Regions from separate parts of the Homo sapiens genome. Here region 1 is linked to region 2. Evidence: fine-mapped expression QTL. A gene starts in region 2. The other region holds a variant in brackets. All regions are shown on one strand. Distances are from middle to middle.

The links.
Region 1: its variant is fine-mapped to the expression of EXOSC1 in whole blood (TOPMed, PIP above 0.99).

What each region holds. Positions count from the first base shown.
Region 1 is chr10:97,410,967-97,416,341 of GRCh38, reverse strand. No RefSeq gene overlaps it. Among named protein-coding and RNA genes, the nearest start is that of RRP12, 12 kb to the right of the region's middle. The variant A/G (reference allele first, on the strand shown) is at 2,229.
Region 2 is chr10:97,442,904-97,448,278 of GRCh38, reverse strand. It overlaps EXOSC1 (exosome component 1), which reads left to right and starts at 2,273. Exons shown (of 8, transcript NM_016046.5): 1 at 2,273-2,324; 2 at 2,432-2,547; 3 at 4,968-5,042. The coding sequence starts at 2,294. It overlaps ZDHHC16 (zDHHC palmitoyltransferase 16), which reads right to left and starts at 2,104. Exons shown (of 12, transcript NM_198046.3): 1 at 1,926-2,104. RefSeq lists a silencer at 1,843-2,052 and enhancers at 1,984-2,563, 2,564-3,144.

The DNA of each region.
Region 1 (5,375 bases), 32 kb after region 2:
ATAGGCCAGGCGCGGTAGCTCACGCCTGTAATCCCAGCACTTTGGGAGGCCGAGGTGAGCGGATCACAAGGTCAGGAGATCGAGTCCATCCTGGCTAACATGGTGAAACCCTTTCTCTACTAAAAATACAAAAATTAGCCAGGTGTGGTGGCGGGCGCCTGTAGTCCCAGCTACTTGGGAGGCTGAGGCAGGAGAATGGCGTGAACCTGGGAGGCGGAGCTTGCAGTGAGCCGAGATCACGCCACTGCACTCCAGCCTGGGCGAGAGTGCGAGACTCCATCTCAAAAAAGAAAAAAAAAGAAAAAGAAAAGAAAACATTATGCTGAGCCAAAGAAGCCAGTTACAAAAGACTGCATGGTTTATGATTTTACTTATATGAAATGTCCAGAATAGGCAAATCTATAGAGACAGAAAGTAGATTAGTGATTGCCAGGGGCTGGCAGGGTTGGGGGTGATAAATACAGGGTGTGGGGTTTCTTTTTGAGGTGCCAAAAAATGTTTTAAAGTTGACTGTGGTGATGTTGCACACATCTGTGAAGATACCAAAAACCACTGAATTGTACACTTTATTTTTTATTTTATTTTATTGAGACAGAGTCTCACTCTGTCACCCAGGCTGGAGTACGGTGTCACGATCTCAGCTCACTGCAACCTCCACCTCCTGGGTTCAAGTGATTCTCCTGCCTCAGCCTCCCGAGTAGCTGGGATTACAAATTTGTGCCACCATGCCTAGCTAATTTTTGTATTTTTAGTAGAGACAGGGTTTCACCATGTTGGCCAGGCTGGTCTTGAACTCCTGACCTTAGTTGATCCACCCACCTCGGCCTCTCAAAGTACTGGGATTATAGGCATGAGCCACCGCACCTGACCAAAAGTTTTAAACAATTATTTTAAAAAACAAACCCACCCGAGCCTACCTACCAGAAGCCTTTGCTCAATGGGAGTGAAGTGGGCGGGTAGCTCTGGTGGATCTAAGTGGCCACTGAGCTGCAGAAAAGCATCCGTCTGCTTTTACCCTAGTCCTGACAGAGCTCAGAACCTCCCATGGCAGCTCCAGGGATGGTTCTTAGGGTTGTGGTTGGGCAAACACATGTGGTTCCCACTAAGCCCAAGGAGAGACATAAAGGAGAGACCAAGGAGAGGCTTCTGTGGAGAAGGCAGGGGCAAAAGCTGGCTGTAAGGTCTGGCCAGCTGCACCACACTGCCCACCAGCACCTCATCTTCTCCTTTACGGAAGAAGTGACTGGGAGTCCGGGATCCTAGGTCTCATTTCTGATTTTTTTTTTTTTTTTTTGAGATAAGGTCTCACTGTGTCTTGTGGGTGGGAGTGCAGTGGTGTGATCATGACTCACCGCAGCCTGAGCTCAAACTCTTGAGCTCAATCCTCCCATCTCAGTCTCCCAAGTAGCTGAGACTACAAACATGTGCCATCACACCCCGCTAATTTTTTTTTTTTTAGACAGTCTTGCTCTGTAACACCCAGGCTAGAGTGCAGTGGCACGATCTCGGCTCACTGCAACCTCTGCCTCCCGGGTTGAAAGGATTCTCCTTTCTCAGCCTCCCGAGTAGTTGGGATTATAGGCACCCGCCATCATGCTCAGCTAATTTTTTGTATTTTTAGTAGAGACAGGGTTTCACCATGTTGGTCAGGCTGCTCTCGAACTCCTGACCTCAGATGATCCACCAGCCTCGGCCTCCCAAAGTGCTTGGATTACAGGCGTGAGCCACCGCGCCCGGGCTTTTTTATTTTTTTAAGAAATGGGGTCTCACTATGTTGGCCAGGCTGGTCTGAAGCTCCTAGGTTCAGGGGATCCTCCTGCTTTGACCTCCCAAAGTGCTGGGATCACAGGTGTGAGCCACTGCACCCAGCCCTAGGTCCCATTTCTGATTAGGTATGTTCCTTACAATGCAACTAACTTCCCTGATTCCCTGTGTTGGAAACACCTCAGCCACAGGATCTTGGAGAGGTGACAAACTGGACCTTTGAATACCTGGGCCAGGCAAGTATTCTGACCCTAGCCAGCCTGTGAACTTCCCTCCCCAGAGCCAACATGGTCCTTTATAAAAGAAAACAACCTCTGAGAGTGAATGTTTTGAGCTACAGTCACTTGAGGGGGAAAAAAAAGCTCATACCCACAGGAAAGACTGTTCTGCTGCCATGGCAACAAGTCACCACCATAACCAGTTTTAAGCCACTTAAAGACAATTCCTCTCCCTTCAGCTGAACA[A/G]TTTTCCTCAGTGACCAGACATCTGACACCAGCCAATCGGTAACAGCCACACTGGTTGGCCAACCAATCCCTAAACACTACCTCCCTTGATATGTGCCCACCATTGATCTTCAACCTCCTAGCACCTTATATAAGATCAGTGCCCTGCTCCACTCACAGGGATTGCACCTAACAGGCCCAGCTCCACCTCCCTTAAGTAAGTACTGTAGTAAATGCAGCTTTTTGGTTCAGATGTTGAGAGATGGTCTTTTCTTTAGACACACTCGTATTCTGGAATCTTGCCTTCCTGGGAGCGATTGATTCTCACTTCCTCTGTGGTGTCATTGCCTCCATGCCTCTGAGCCTCGTATACCTGTACGCATCATATGCCTCTATGGTGTCACTGGGGAATGAGAAAAAGGCCAACTCCAGGCGTGGTGGCTCACGCCTGTAATCCCAGCACTTTAAGAGGCCGAGGTGGGCAGATCACCTGAGGTCAGGAGTTGGAGACCAGCCTGCCCAACATAGTGAAACCCTGTCTCTACTAAAATACTAAAATTAGCTGGGCGTGGGGGCGGGCACCTATAATCCCAGCTACTTGGGAGGCTGAGGCAGGAGAATTGCTTGAGCCTGGGAGGCAGAGGCTGCAGTGAGTTGAAACTGTGCTACTGCACTCCAGCCTGGGCTACAGAGCTAGACTCCGCCTAAAAAAAAATAAATAAATAAAATAAAATAAAATAAAATAAAAGGCCAACTCTTCTTCTCTACAAGGCACCAATGAAGACTGGATTTCAGACCCCTCATCTGGGAAACTAAGCAGTCCACATACTTCACAACTGTACACGGCAACCGTGCTCACCCCTCATAACCGCTAGCCTTCACGTGTCATTCTACCTCCCCGATACCTTCTCCAATCTGTCCTTCCCTCTTTGCCCCCGCTGCCACATTCTTAGTTTCAACCCTTATGGTTTCTTTCCTGTACTGATGCAGCAGTTTCCGACACATCAGTGACTCAGGTCTTGCCTGCATCTAGAGCAAACACATCGTGTTCTTACTTGCCCCTGTGCCTTTGTAGCTGCTGTGGCCTTGCTTGGCCTGAACAGCCACCCTCAGCTTCCTGGTCAACTCTAGCTCATGCTGTAGCACTCAGCTCCAACGTCACCTCACCTGAAAATTGGCCCTGACTCGCCTCTCAGACATGACTATAGTCTGCCAGGCTCTGGACTCCCATAGCTCCTGACCATACCTGGATGATGGCACTGATTGCCACAGGGATTGTTTACTGCCACCCCAACCAGCCTGTGAACTCTAGATGTGAGAGCTAGGCTGCTTTCATTGCTTGGTAACCAAATGGTTATAAAGAACAGGAATTGGGAGAGGAGTAAATTACAATTATAACTCCCCACTTAATGCTATTGGGAATCTTTCCCTAGCTTTGGTTTCCCCATTTTAAAATGTGGATAATAGGCCAGGTGCAGTGGCCCGTGACTGTAATCCCAGAACTTTGGGAGGCGAAGGCAGGAGGATCATGTGAGGCCAGGAGTTAGACACCAGACTGGATAACATAGTGAGACCCTGTCTCTAATTAAAAAAAGAAAAAAAGAAAAAATAATAATAGGCCAGGCGCGGTGGCTCACCCCTGTAATCCTAGCACTTTGGGAGACCGAGGCAGGCAGATTGCCTGAGGTCAGGAGTTTGAGACCAGTCTGGCCAACGTGGTGAAACCCGATCTCTACTAAAAATACAAAAAAATTAGCCAGATGTGGCGGCATGTGCCTGTGATCCCAGCTACTCAGGAGGCTGAGGCAGGGGAATTGCTTGAACCAGGGAGGTGGAGGTTGCAATGAGCCAAGATCATGCCACTGCACTCCAGCCTGGACGACAGAGCAAGACTCAGTCCCAAAAATAAATAAAAAATAATAATAATAAAATAAAATGTGCATAATAATAGCACCTACCCTATACAGTGGTTGCGAGGACTCAGTAGGATCACACATGTGAAGTGCCAGGTCTATAGAGGCTAATAAATGATAGTTCTTATTACCACAGAGAGCCCCTGACACAAAGGATACATCCATTAAATGCTATTTTCCTCTCCTCTTCTCTGCCACAATGCCCAATCTACTTGGCAGGATGGTATAGTGGTTGGATAAATGATGGACCAACATTTCTGTTATTTTCCTTGATTGCAACCTTCAAAAATTATTGTCCAGGCAAGATAGCTCACGCCTATAATCCCAACACTTTGGGAGGCTGAGGCAGGAGGATTGCTTGAGCCCAGAATATTGAGACCAGTCTGGGCAACATAAGGAGACCTTGTCTCTGCAAAAAATTTAAAAATTAGCTGGGCATGGTGGCATATGCCTGTAGTTCCAGCTACTTGGGAGGCTAAAGTGGGAGGATTGCTTGAGCTCAGGAGGTCAAGGCTGCAGTGAACCGTGATCGCATTCCAGCTTGCATGACTACTGCATTCCAGTCTGGTTGACAGACATAAAAGATATACCTTGGACAGCCCCTCTTAGACACCCTAAGAGCGTTATCTGAACCTCTCTTGTGCCCCTTGCTGAGCTCTGCATAAGTCATGTGTTCACTTGGCAAGCAGATGTATTGAGCCACACACTGTGGTAGGCTCTGATGGCGCCAGAGTAGACCAGACATGGTTCCTGTAATCAGGGGTTTCACAGTCAGATGGTCAGATGAGGGAGGCAGAGAAGCAAAATGCAATTCTATTAATTGAGCATCAGTGAACAATAAAGTTACCAGGGGCTTTAGAGAGCTCTGGGTACAACATCTTCAATGTACAAATAAGAAAACCGAAGAGTTTTGTGCTTGTCTTTTCACCATTCCCCCATAGGTTACTTTCTTTTTTTTTTTTTTTTTTTTTTTGAGACAGAGTATCTTGCTGTTGCCCAGGCTGGAGTGCAGTGGCGCGATCTTGGCTCACTGCAACCTCCACCTCCCAGGTTCAAGCAATTCTCATGCCTCAGCCTCCCAAGTAGCTGGGATTACAGGCGTGTGCCACCATGCCTGGCTAATTATCCCCTGTAGGCTTCTTTTTTTTTTTTCTTTTTTTGACGGAGTCTCGCTCTGTTGCCCAGGCTGGAGTGCAGTGGTGCCATCTCGGCACACTGCAAGCTCCGCCTCCCAGGTTCACTCCATTCTCCTGCC
Region 2 (5,375 bases):
GCCAGATGTCTATCTGTCCTACAAATACCAGCAAGGACACTCCTGCCAATGTGGTAACACTAAATAAGTGTCTGCTGTTATCATTCTTCCTGATTCATAAAGAGAGAAATACAAACTGTTATTAAAATCATGGCACTTAGGAGCTAGAAGTCGTTTTTGAAAACAAGCCCAACCAGAAATCAGCCCAACCGTGTAAACAGAAAGCTCCTAGACGCACAGATACAGATTTGGGTGAACAAAGTCTGAGGCTAGGGCCTCTCTCCATTAGCTAATGGGGTATGGGATGCCAGGAAAATTACATATGTAGTAAGTGGGCCGCAACTGAACACACAGACTTTTCTTTTTTTTTTTTTTTGAGATGGAGTTTCACTCTTGTTGCCCAGGCTGGAGTGCAATGGCACAATCTGGGCTCACCACAACCTCCGCCTCCTGGGTTCAAGCAATTCTCCTGCCTCAGCCTCCTGAGTGGCTGGGATTCCAGGCATGTGCCACCACGCCTGGCTAATTTTGTATTTTTTTAGTAGAGACCGGGTTTCTCCATGTTGGTCAGGCTGGTCTCAAACTCCCGACCTCAGGTGATGTGCTTGCCTCAGCCTCCCAAAGTGCTGGGATTGCAGGCGTGAGCCACCGCACCTGGCCCAGACTTTTCATCTCAAGAAATAGAAGTAAAGCAAAATTCAAAAAGATGTGTGTAGGGGAGAAGGGGCTAATCTCAGTGAACGGGAGGAAACAGAGCAAAGCGCAGCTTTACTACCACCCCAAGCACAAGCCCGAGTACTCTGATCCTTCAGTAATAGTCACAGGCCATACTGGTCATCTGCCACCAGACTGGAGGAGATTGCTGGCCACAACACTCCCCTCTTCCCATGGCTTTAAGTCACATCTGTTTCCCAATGGGAAAGTCGACTGAGGGGACAGGGAAGGACAGACGGCAAAGCCATCAGAAGTCAGGTGAACTGAGATCAAAGTCGTGGCGAATGTCATCTGGACAAAGACGCTGCTCTCAGGATGTTTGCAATCTCAAGTAGGAGATACCCAACATCAATAAAGAGTAGCATTTTATTCATGTGCAGACCTCCCTTCTGGGCTAACACGCTGAGAAGAAAAAGAGTAACAACTTTATTTTGGGGCTGCTTATCTTTTGATGACGGGCCCACACAACCAGAGTTCGGCTTTTTCAACCAGAGAAAGCTTACTGAAGTGGGGATGAGGGGCCGCGAAGAGGATCGGACCGCAGGACTGGAAGCTGCAGTTTAAAAAACCGGGAAAAGGCCGGAGGCAGTGGCTCATGCCTGTACTCCCTGCACTTTGGAAGGCCGAGGCGGGCGGATCAAGAGATCAAGACCATCCTGGCTAACATGGTGAAACCCCGTCACTACTAAAACTACAAAAATTAGCTGGGCGTGGTGGCGCGCGCCTGTAAGTCCCAGCTGCGCGGGAGGCTGAGGCAGGAGAATCGCTTGATGCCGGGAGGCGGAGGTTGCAGTGAACAGAGATCGCTCCACTGCACTCCAGCCTGGCGACAGAGCGAGACTCCTCAAAAACAAAACAAAAAAACCGGGAAAAGGTTTTATTTCTCAATGACAGCCGCGAGGTGAAACTGCGATGGACTGGAAGTCAAAAACCGTGGGTTCCAGTTTGGGCTCTATCTTAACTATCTTGATCATTTTGGACAAGTCAAACCCTGTCTCTGAATCTGAGGTTCCATATCTGTGAAACAGACGAGTTGGGTCGCTTGACCTCCTTCCCTCCTGCTCTGAGCGTAACGATTGCTCGGAAGGTGCGCTCGGGCTGAGGAGGGCACGGCCCCGCAGGGCGGGGCGAGGAGAGAGCAGGAACCCGCACTCAAGACAAGGCCCCAGGGCAGTGCCCTACCCAGAAAAAGGGACTAGGATGGGGAGCAAGGGCCGAGGCTTCGCCCTTACCTGCCGCCTGCCGACTCCCCAGTCAGCCAAACCGAGCCCCGTAGCCTCTGCCGCCGCTCACTGCCACCCCCTCCGACTCGGCGCCCCGGCCGGGCCCGGCTCAATCCAAACCACCATGGCCCGCCGCCCGCAGCGCCAGGCAGCGGACCCGGACCCGCCGCCAGCCCATCCTCAACCACACGCGCAGGCGCCAGCGTGGACCTCTGAAGTTCCGCCCCCGGATTTGTCCCGGGGTAACCTGGGAAATGGAGTTTACTCGCAAGGATAAAGAGTACCAATTGACACGTGTCTTACTGCGGAACTGTGCCTGGGTTTGGCCAATGAGAAATCGACTTCGTTTTCATCCTGGTTTTGGGACAGCGGCAATCATGGCGCCACCTGTGAGATACTGCATCCCCGGTAAGTGAGCGCTTCCCGTACAGAGTCCTGGATAGGGGCTGAAGCAAGAAGGCTAAACGGCCTACAGCTTCTGGGGGCCCGTGACCGATGCAGCATTTTTTCTGCAGGCGAACGTCTGTGTAACTTGGAGGAGGGCAGCCCGGGCAGCGGCACCTACACCCGCCACGGCTACATCTTTTCGTCGCTTGCCGGCTGTCTGATGAAGAGCAGCGAGAATGGCGCGGTAAAGGAAGCGGCATGCCATCTCCCCTCTGTTTTTCCCTTAGGCTGCCCTTGAGTTCCAGTCCTTAGGCATGGGCACTGCGGACGCGTCTTTAGTGCCTCAGTGGTACAATGTTGGTCTCTTAGTTTCTTCTAGCCGTATCGCCGCTGTGGTGCACTTAGCCACCACACACTAGTTGTGTTGATCTCGCTTGGTTGTGCTGCTGACCCTCGGGGAGGGAAGTTGGGACAAAAGCAGATGCGAACTCAGTATCCCATCCCAGCCCAGCTCAGCCCAGCAGTGAGTTGCATACTGTATGAATGTTGCTTACCTTTCCGACTTTATCTAGCGCCACTATCTCCACCTCACTGACGCAATCTAGTCATACTGTCTTTTCTGTGTTTAAAAGTTATAATCACAGTCTCTGCTTGCCCTTTAAAAATTTTTTATAACATACTAGCTTCTTTCAGTGTCGGTAATGCGCCAAGCTTTCTCCTGCTACAGAGCCTTTGTAACATGCCATCTATCTGGAACGCTTCTATCTTCCTAGGCCTATTTAATTCCTACCTCCTTTAGATAGCTTCTCTACTATCACCTCAGAGAAGTCCTTCTGGACCCACTAATTGAGGAAAGGAGTTTTGTGGGGTGTTTTGTTTTTGTTTGTTTTGTTAAAGACTCACAAAAAACTCTGTTCCTTTTCTTCCAAGCACTATGTCAGCATATGATGAGACACTCAGGTATATGTTTCCTACTAGACTTCTCCCCTGCTTAAATCTAAGTCCGTGAAAGCAGGCCCTACCACCATACCATCCGTATATAGCACAAGGCAGCTCCTCAATAAATGTTGAATGTGTGAGTAATACCTACCTTTCTAGTTTCAGAGATAGATCCAGGATTAGCTCAGGATCATATAAGCAATATTTGAAGGAGCACAATAGAAAGAGGATTCAGAATTAGAACAGTTACGTTCTGGCTAACTTGACTTTGATTCTGCTTTGAGTAAGTAACTTAAGCTGTCTGATTCAAGGGGCTTTCTATTCAGTCATTGTTGGGAATGTTCTTAACAGTCCTGAGTTTGTTCATTTCATAGATATCACTTGAGTATTTTCATGTGTCAGGCACAGCGCTGACTTGGTTTCTGCTATCAAAGGACACAGACACAAATTGTAAACAAATAAATGCTCAAATGAGCATATGGTTACATATGTGGTGGTGCTTTGAAAGAATATTACAGGGCACCTTGAGAACATGTAACAGGCAAACCCATCCTAGTCAGCAGAAGTGACATTTAAGCTGAATCATCTAAAGAGTAGGTAAGAGTCAGGTGGGTGGAGAGAGTGCAGCTCTGGCAGAAAGAATAGGTTGAAGAGAGATCTGAAAGTGGGAAGAATTTAGTAAGTTGGGGAAACTGAAAGAAGGCCAGGAGAGCTGAAGCATTGTGAGCAACGGAGAGATTGATAAAAGATGAGGCTCAAAATATCTGTCTTATACCAACAGCCAATACCATGCTCAAAGAGAAAACTCTGCAAGTATTCACTTAAAATAGAAGAAAACAAGCATAGCCGCTATTATGTAACATTTTTGTGGAAATTTCAGCCTGTGCAATAAAATAAGAAACAGAAGGAAGCAGTATAACTTTGGAGGAAAGAGTAAATTGTCGGCAGGGCGCAGTGGCTCACACCTGTAATCCCAGCACTTTGGGAAGCCAAGGCAGGTGGATCACCTGAGGTCAGGAGTTCGAGACCAGCCTGGCCAACATGGTGAAACCCCATCTCTACTAAAAATACAAAAAATTACCCGAGCATGGTGACAGGCTTCTGTAATCCCAGCTACTCGGGAGGCTGAGGCAGGAGAATCACTTGAACCCAGGAGGTGGAGGTTGCAGTGAACCAAGATGGCACCCTTGCACTCCATCCTAGGCAACAAGAGTGAAACTCCATTTCAAAAAAAAACAAAAAAAGTAAAATTGTCAATGATTATAGGCAATATAGTTGTATACCAAGAAATTCTGAGAGAATCACCAAAAAACTTATTAGAAGTTTAGAGATTTACTACAAAAAAAAGTAGCTGGGCATGGTGGCGGGTGCCTGTAGTCCCAGCTACTCGGGAGGCTGAGGCAGGAGAATGGCGTGAACCCGGGAAGTGGACCTTGCAGTGAGCCGAGATCGTGCCACTGCACTCCAGTCTAGGCGACAGAGCAAGACTCCGTCTCCAACAACAAAAAAAGAAGTTTAGAGATGTATGTCTTCTAGCAGCATTCTGTAGCCTCCTGGTCCTCCTATTTCCTAAAATTTCTAAGGCCTTCTGCTCTGGGCTATAAATGAATCCATACTCCAACTCTCACCTTTATACCAAGACATTCCTATATTACTCTCAAGCCACAAATGCCTTGACCCAAGGGTTAGTCAGGACATTTCAGTTTTTTGTTGTTCCCTCTGTAGCTTCCAGTGGTGTCTGTAGTGAGAGAAACAGAGTCCCAGTTACTGCCAGATGTGGGAGCTATTGTAACCTGTAAGGTAAGTTGGTCCTGACCTCCATGCTTAGAATGCCCATTCAATACTGAAATCATGACCATACCAGAACTGCAGTGTCCAGTATGATAGCCACAAGCTACATAAATTTATTTCTGGCAGGGCACAGTGGCTCACACTGGTAATTCTAGCACTTTAAGAGGCCGAGGCAGGAGGATTGCTTCAGCCCAGAGTTCAAGACCAGCCTGGGAAACATAGTGAAACCTCATCTCTACAAAAAGAATCAAAAATTGCCGGGCATGGTGGCTCATGCTTGTAATCCCAGCACTTTGGGAGGCCGAGGTGGGCAGATCACCTGTGGTCAGGAGTTCAAGACCA